2 linked regions of the Homo sapiens genome follow. The protein of the gene in region 1 purifies or fractionates together with the protein of each later gene. This does not show direct contact. Each region holds a gene or a part of one and is shown on either strand. Other genes may lie near its edges.

What was found.
Region 2: the proteins of PODXL2 (region 1) and LMAN2 purify together in Homo sapiens (affinity purification with mass spectrometry; one large-scale study listed by BioGRID and IntAct). This does not show direct contact.

The regions. Positions count from the first base shown.
Region 1 is NC_000003.12:127,660,031-127,663,840, forward strand, and holds part of PODXL2 (podocalyxin-like protein 2 precursor), read left to right. Parts: intron 1-347; coding exon 348-1,129; intron 1,130-2,206; coding exon 2,207-2,281; intron 2,282-3,810. UniProt on the Homo sapiens protein: Acts as a ligand for vascular selectins. Mediates rapid rolling of leukocytes over vascular surfaces through high affinity divalent cation-dependent interactions with E-, P- and L-selectins.
Region 2 is NC_000005.10:177,338,169-177,341,978, reverse strand, and holds part of LMAN2 (vesicular integral-membrane protein VIP36 precursor), read left to right. Parts: intron 1-3,373; coding exon 3,374-3,491; intron 3,492-3,810. UniProt on the Homo sapiens protein: Plays a role as an intracellular lectin in the early secretory pathway. Interacts with N-acetyl-D-galactosamine and high-mannose type glycans and may also bind to O-linked glycans.

The sequences.
Region 1 (3,810 bases):
GAAATCCCCAGATGAGGACAAGCAAGCACATTACAAACACAGTGGAGAATATATACCTCAAACTACTCATGGCTCTTTTGGAGGAATGCAATATACAAAACTTTCTACATTCCTGTGTTCATTGAGTTTTGGTGATAAATTTGTATTATTTTATCATCATAAAGGAAACAGTGACTAGCCTTGTCCCTGTGTCCTCCCACAGTCTGCTCCCCTGGCCTCTCCATCATGACCTGATGACCCCTGCCCTGTCAGTGTATTGTGGTTCTTTTATGCCATCTGCCCAGTAAATACTGAGTAAAGCAATGAATGATGAAACAAGTGAATGAACTTTTCATCTCTGTCCTTAGATTATGTTTTTCCTGACTTAACTGAGAAGGCAGGTTCCATTGAAGACACCAGCCAGGCTCAAGAGCTGCCAAACCTCCCCTCTCCCTTGCCCAAGATGAATCTGGTTGAGCCTCCCTGGCATATGCCTCCCAGAGAGGAGGAAGAAGAGGAAGAGGAAGAGGAGGAGAGGGAGAAGGAAGAGGTAGAGAAACAAGAGGAGGAGGAAGAGGAGGAGCTGCTCCCTGTGAATGGATCCCAAGAAGAAGCCAAGCCTCAGGTCCGTGACTTTTCTCTCACCAGCAGCAGCCAGACCCCAGGGGCCACCAAAAGCAGGCATGAAGACTCCGGGGACCAGGCCTCATCAGGTGTGGAGGTGGAGAGCAGCATGGGGCCCAGCTTGCTGCTGCCTTCAGTCACCCCAACTACAGTGACTCCGGGGGACCAGGACTCCACCAGCCAAGAGGCAGAGGCCACAGTGCTGCCAGCTGCAGGGCTTGGGGTAGAGTTCGAGGCTCCTCAGGAAGCAAGCGAGGAAGCCACTGCAGGAGCAGCTGGTTTGTCTGGCCAGCACGAGGAGGTGCCGGCCTTGCCTTCATTCCCTCAAACCACAGCTCCCAGTGGGGCCGAGCACCCAGATGAAGATCCCCTTGGCTCTAGAACCTCAGCCTCTTCCCCACTGGCCCCTGGAGACATGGAACTGACACCTTCCTCTGCTACCTTGGGACAAGAAGATCTCAACCAGCAGCTCCTAGAAGGGCAGGCAGCTGAAGCTCAATCCAGGATACCCTGGGATTCTACGCAGGTAAAGTGAGGGGCATGCGGGCCACCACCCTGTACCTTCTTCACAGAGCCTGGCCATCCCCAGGGCTAGTGTGGCATGGGGGCAGGATCTGCCAGGTTGAGGAGGGAGGCCCTTTCCACAGCACGTAGAACCCCATGGAACTTGTGGGGATGCAAACCTCAGGGCCAACAATGGGTGTTCTCCCCACACTTCTGTGCAAAGGCCTTTGGAGAAACTTGGTGGCCTGGCCTGGGTTTCATTTGTTCATGTGTTACCATTGCCACCCTTAGACATCTTTTGTTTTTTTTTTTTCCCGAGATGGAGTCTCACTCTGTCGCCCAGGCTGGAGTGAAGTGGGCATGATCTCGGTTCACTGCAACCTCCACCGCCCAGGTTCAAGCAATTCTCATACCTCAGCCCCCTGAGTAGCTGGGATTACAGGCATGTGCCACCATGCCTGGCTAATTTTTGTATTTTTAGTGGAGACAGGGTTTCACCATGTTGGCCAGGCTGGTCGGGAACTCCTGACTTCAAGTGATCCACCCGCTATGGCCTCCTGAAGTGCTGGGATTACAGGCATTAGCTACCGCACCCAGCCCACACTTAGACTTCTGCACTGATTCTACCAGCAGCTAGAGCTAGTGGCTGACCTGTGCTTTCCCCATCCCATCTCACCACCCTCCTCCTCCCCACCGACACCCATGTGCATAGCAGGCACAAGTCAGTGTTCACACCCACTGACACCGCAAGGAAAAGAAAGGAGCCCCAGAATATTAACAATAAACTTGCCCTTGAAAGCCAGCATGTGGGGCAAGCTCTCTGCAGCCTGGCCCCTTTGATATAGTCCCCTACTTCCTGGGAATAATGCCTGGCCTCCTCCTCTCACTCAATACATTCCCTGCTTGGTCCCCAAAGACATTCGAGTTTGTACTCCTTGGCATGGTGCCTCACAGAGGCTGTCAGCAGCCCCCTCGCTGTAATACGCCTCCACTGGCCTCCACCTTCCAGCTTCCCAAAAGGCCTCCGACCGGGGCTCTCTCCCCTGTCCCTTTCCTATGCCTTCGTAACTGTCGCCCTTCTTTCTGTCTCCTCGCACAGGTGATCTGCAAGGACTGGAGCAATCTGGCTGGGAAAAACTACATCATTCTGAACATGACAGAGAACATAGACTGTGTGAGTGCCCAGCCAGGCTCCGAACCGCAGGGAAAGGCTGCAGGCAGTGGACAGGGTGGGGCAGAGGGCAGGCTGGGGGGACAAGCAGTGCGTGGGAGAAGGCTTAGTCCTTCAGTTGGTGGCCCAGGGATATACCAGCAGCCATCAACATTACACACAGAGAGCTTTCGTATTTTAAAATGTCCAAAGGCTCTTTGGTTCTTGCTTCCCTCTCTTTTTAATTTAAATGAATACTTTGTTCATGTGTGCACCATCTTACCTCTCCCGTGATATTGAAACCTTTCTGTCTTTTTTAGAGTTGTTTTCTTCCTGTATAGGTTGCTTTTCTCCGTTTTGGGTCTCAGCCTTTTCATATATATACATGCTCTCCACACATGTCTGGTGGAGTTTGTTCATAGCTCTCTCTATCGAAAAAGTGGCTGGAAGCTTTGAGCATAGTGCTAGGGTTGTCAGCTATGGCTTCTCATGAGAGTGGTCTGGCTGGGCCGTATCACTTAGAAATTTGCAATGGCAGCATTGTTAGGTCCTTCCTCCTGAGGTGATTAGAGTCTTTGAAAAGGGAACTTCTGTTCTGTTCGAAGTATAACAAGTTGGTTGTCAGTGTTCTGGGAGCTGGGGTGGAGAGAGAGGGCTGGGTGTTTCAGTATTATAAATATGTATCCATAAATATCAATATTCATGTACTGTCTCTTCCTGTTTGCAGAGTGACCTTCTCCCTCCCCAAAACACACACTTGTGTCTGATGCTCTCTAGGTCAGAGACCCTCTGTTTTATCTTTTTTAAAGAATAAACTTCCAGTCTTCTGCCAGGGAGAAGGGACATTTCTTGGCTGTGCAGCACTGCGGGAAGAACTAGGGACCCAGCCGTTTCTTAAGCAAACTTTCGACCAGCTCATATTTTTAGTAGCATTTTCATCCCCTCTTCCAAAGGTAACCAGGGCCCCTATTCCGGGGCATCTGGGGAGTGTCAATCAGTATGCATCTGATTGCTTCTCAGCTTTCCTCATTTTGGCTTAGGGTTTGGCTCTTTAGAGTTTGCTAAATTAGGAAATTCTAACTCACCATCTGCTTCCAGTGTCTAGATTTTGTTGCTCTTGTCTCCTCTTCTGTTTTGCTTTGTCTCTGGTTTTAGGCCTTAAATTCTTTACTCTTGTTAGTGGGCCTGGGCAAGACTGAAGGGACATGCATGCGTTGAATCCAAAAGTCCCCAGCAAGGTTGGTTTCCCCCACCATCACTATACTGATGGATCTTCACCTAAGTGATGTGTGTTTTCATCCATTGCAGTTATTATTTTTACTGATGCTCAATACCTCATCTTTGGCCAGGGAAAGCCTCTTTGAGTTGGCCTCTGAGTCCTTTTGACCAATCTATTAAGTGTCTGATTGCTTCCTTGCTTTCTGGCATAATAAGACATTCCAGGCTCACCTTCCTCCCCCAGACATGGAGCCCTCATTCCCTTCATTGGGAAATGGTACATGAAGACCACAGATGGGTACTTGGGACCCTTGAACTTTTGGTGTGCATACTTG
Region 2 (3,810 bases), on another chromosome or scaffold:
TATTTTTCCTCTTCTATTAGCTTGAAAGTTATATGCTCTTTTCTCAGTTTTAAGTGGTCACCCTAGAATTTAAAGCAGGCATTCATGTTGTACCAAAGACTAATGATAATGTGTACTTTACCTTCTTCCTGGACAGTGCAAGGATCCTAACACACTTTAACTCCATTTATTGTTGTCATTTGTTTTAATTATTTCTGTTTTAAATCACACAACCCATTGTTTTGTGCAGTCAGATATTTAGATTTTCACCCTTATAGTCACTGTATTTGTTGTTCTTCGTTCCTTCTGGAATCTGACTTTACATCTGGATGGGGATCATTTTCTTTCTCCCTGAAGAATGAAAGTGTGAGTCTGCTAATGAATTCTTTTGGTTTTTGTTTGTTTGTCTCAAAATATCTTTATTTTACCTTCATTCTTGAAGGATACATTTGCTGAGTATAGAATCCCATGCTGGCTGTTACCTTCCTGTATCTCCAAACATATCAGTCATCTGCCTTCTTGCTCCCGCTGTTCCCGCCGTGAAGCCGGGTGTCAGGCTGATTATTGCTCCTGTGAGAGTCATTGCCTTTTTTCCCTCTGGTTCCTTTTTCTTTAAGATTATTATTTTTTTTATGGCCGGGCGCGGTGGCTCACGCCTGTAATCCCAGCACTTTGGGAGGCCGAGACGGGCGGATCACCTTAGGTCGGGAGTTCAAGACCAGCCTGACCAACATGGAGAAACCCCGTCTCTACTAAAAATACAAAATTAGCCAGGCGTAGTGGCGCATGCCTGTAATCCCAGCTCCTCAGGAGGCTGAGGCAGGAGAATCGCTTGAACCCAGGAGGCAGAGGTTGCAGTGAGCCAAGATCACGCCATTGCACTCCAGCCTGGGCAACAAGAGCGAAACTCTGTCTCACAAAAAAAAAAAAAAAAAGAAAAAAAAAGGCTGGGCGTGGTGGCTCACATCTGTAATCTCAGCACTTTGGGAGGCTGAGGTGGGCGGATCACAAGGTCAGGAGATCGTGACCATCCTGGCTAACACGGTGAAACCCTGTCTCTACTAAAAATACAAAAAAATTAGCCGGGTGTGGTGGCGGGCGCCTGTAGTCCCAACTACTGGGGAGGCTGAGGCAGGAGAATGGCGTGAACCCGGGAGGCAGAGCTCGCAGTGAGCAGAGATTGTGCCACTGCACTCCAGCCTGGGCGACAGAGTGAGTCTGATTTTTTTTGAGAAAGAGTCTCACTCTGTTGCCCAGGCTGGAATGCAGTGGCACAATCTCGGCTCACTGCAACCTCCACCTCCCAGATTCAAGCAGTTCTCCCGCCTCAGCCTCCCAAGTAGCTGGAATTACAGGCATGTACCACCACGCCTGGCTAATTTTTGTATTTTTAGTAGAGACGGGGTTTCACCATGTTGGCCAGGCTGGCCTCAACCTCAAGTGATCCACCTGCCTCAGCCTCCCAAAGTGCTGAGATTACAGGCGTGAGCCACTGCACCCGGCCAAGATTCTCTGTTTTTAAGGAGAACAATAGACACTCCAGACTAGATGGGGGAGGACGTGGGTTGAAAAACTACCTATTGGGTACTGTTCTCCCTGCCTGGGTGCAGTATACCCATGTAACCTGCACATGTAGCCCCTGTATCTAAAATAAAAGTTGAAATTGAAAAGAAAGAAAAAATGCTTTTGTGGCACACGTTCTCAGGATTGCCTGGGGCTGTACCACGGGGAAAAAAATTAGAAAAAAATAGTTTCATGTTAAAAAAAACTTTTTTGTTGTTGTTGCTGTTTCCTCTATCCCTCCCTTCTTTTTTTGTGCCTAAATATGGTTTTCTTTTTAGTCATCTCCTTTGGTTTGTAGGACTTTTCAAGTTTGTGGCGTGTCTTTGAATCAGTTTTAGTAAGTGCTTAGACGTCTTTAAATATTCCTTTGCCTTCATTTCTCACATCTTACTCGGGAATCCCAATTATATGAGTCTTAGCCTCTCTCACTGTTTCCTCTGTCTCTTACCCACAATTCTATATCTTCCATTCTTTTGTGCTCTCGGGGACTCGGCCTAGGTTTTGTTATCTGGGTTCCTGGTGCCCAGAGTGGGAGCAGTGAGTCTGTGGCATCAATGAATGCATGAAGCATATTGCTCAAATTGGGGTACAGTGTTTTTTATTTTTCTGTGATCACAGAAGTAATATGTTTATTATACATTATTCAAACATGGTAAACAGTCGCCATAATCCCCCTCCCAGAATTACCCATCATTAATACTGGTTCATGTTCCTTTACTCCTGTATTCATTTCTCTTCATGCTCATCTGCATTGGACGTTAATGGTCTTTTTCACAGTTGCCAGTCTGACAGGTCAACATCCTGTTTGGGTTTGCCTTTGTGATGGGTCTTTGTTTAATCACTTGCTTACATACCCATCTGCAGACTTCCTGAAAGTGGATTCTTGTCACCGTGTGTGTTGACACCTTAGTTTTCACAAGCGACTTCCTGATGCCTAAGGCAAGGCTTTCTCCCTTGGCGTAGGCGGTGCCCATCCCTGCCCCAGCTCACATGGTGGTGCCCTTGAGTCCCAGAGCACGACCCTGACCAGCTCTCATCCCCAGCGCTGGTACCACACTTAGGCTGGGCTGGGGAGGTGAACTGGTGAAGGGCTGGGTTTTGGAGTCAGCCAGACCTGGGCTTGAGGCCAGCAGCACTGACCCGGCCTGATTTTCCTCACTTGGGAAGGTTGGTTAGCAGGGTGGATGTGGCAGTGGATGTGGGTGACCAGAAAGGGGCTGGTGCAATTTATGTGAAAGGCCTGCAGGCCGCGGGAAGTACTGAAGGCAGAGCAGAGCTCTCGGAGTCAGAAAACCCTGCATGTGAATCCAGACAGTCCGCTGAGCAGAGCTCTCGGAGTCAGAAAGCCCTGCGCGTGAGTCCAGACAGTCCACTGAGCTGCTCTGGACAAGTTGTTACACCTCTGAATTTGTTTTCCTGTAAAATACTTTGCTCAAATAGGAGTTGTAACGTCTGCAGAAGGTTCCAGGGCAAGAGCAGTGGATGGAGAGGAAATGGCTGGTGGGTTTGGCTGGTAATGAGGGTGAACAGTGTGGCAGCCACCTAAACCTACTCAGGAGCAGCCTGAGGTCTGCTGGCGGGGTCTGGGCCTCAGGCAGCCTTGGAACACTGGCCTCCCCCACCTCACCTGGTGCCCAACAGTCTCTTCCCTTCACGGCCAGAACATTTAGGGGTCTGTGGTCAGTGGCACTTGTGGCCCTGTGCCAAGGAGTGCCCAGTCTTAGCTGGGGAGAGAAGAGAGGTCTGTGGGGCAGGGGCCGTGCTGGGGTTGCCTCCAGCTTGCTGGAAGGCCCTGGGGAGCTCTGAGCAGCCCATTCTGCTCTCCCTCCAGCCGTGCTTCCTCAAAGACTGGGAAATGCACGTCCACTTCAAAGTCCACGGCACAGGGAAGAAGAACCTCCATGGAGACGGCATCGCCTTGTGGTACACCCGGGACCGCCTCGTGCCAGGTGGGCTGGTGTTCGCTCAGCTGGGCCCTGTGGGGGTGGGCACGGGCATGGCTGCTGGCCCCCTAGGGAGGTGGGGTGGGGCTGCCTGTGGCTCGTGGGGACCAGCGTCTCCTCTCCTGTTAGGAAAGTGCTGCCTCCCGTGGATAAAGTCCTGCGCCTCCGGAAGGAGCCTGGCTCTGGAAGGAAGGTCACTGAGGGGAGAGGAGCAGCTGGGTCCTGCAGCTCAACCCTACACCCTCATTGGCCTGGTTTTACCATTTTAAACAGTTATTGTTGTAAAAAAGCCAAAACATGAAGACTGTGTGGCTGTGACTGCATG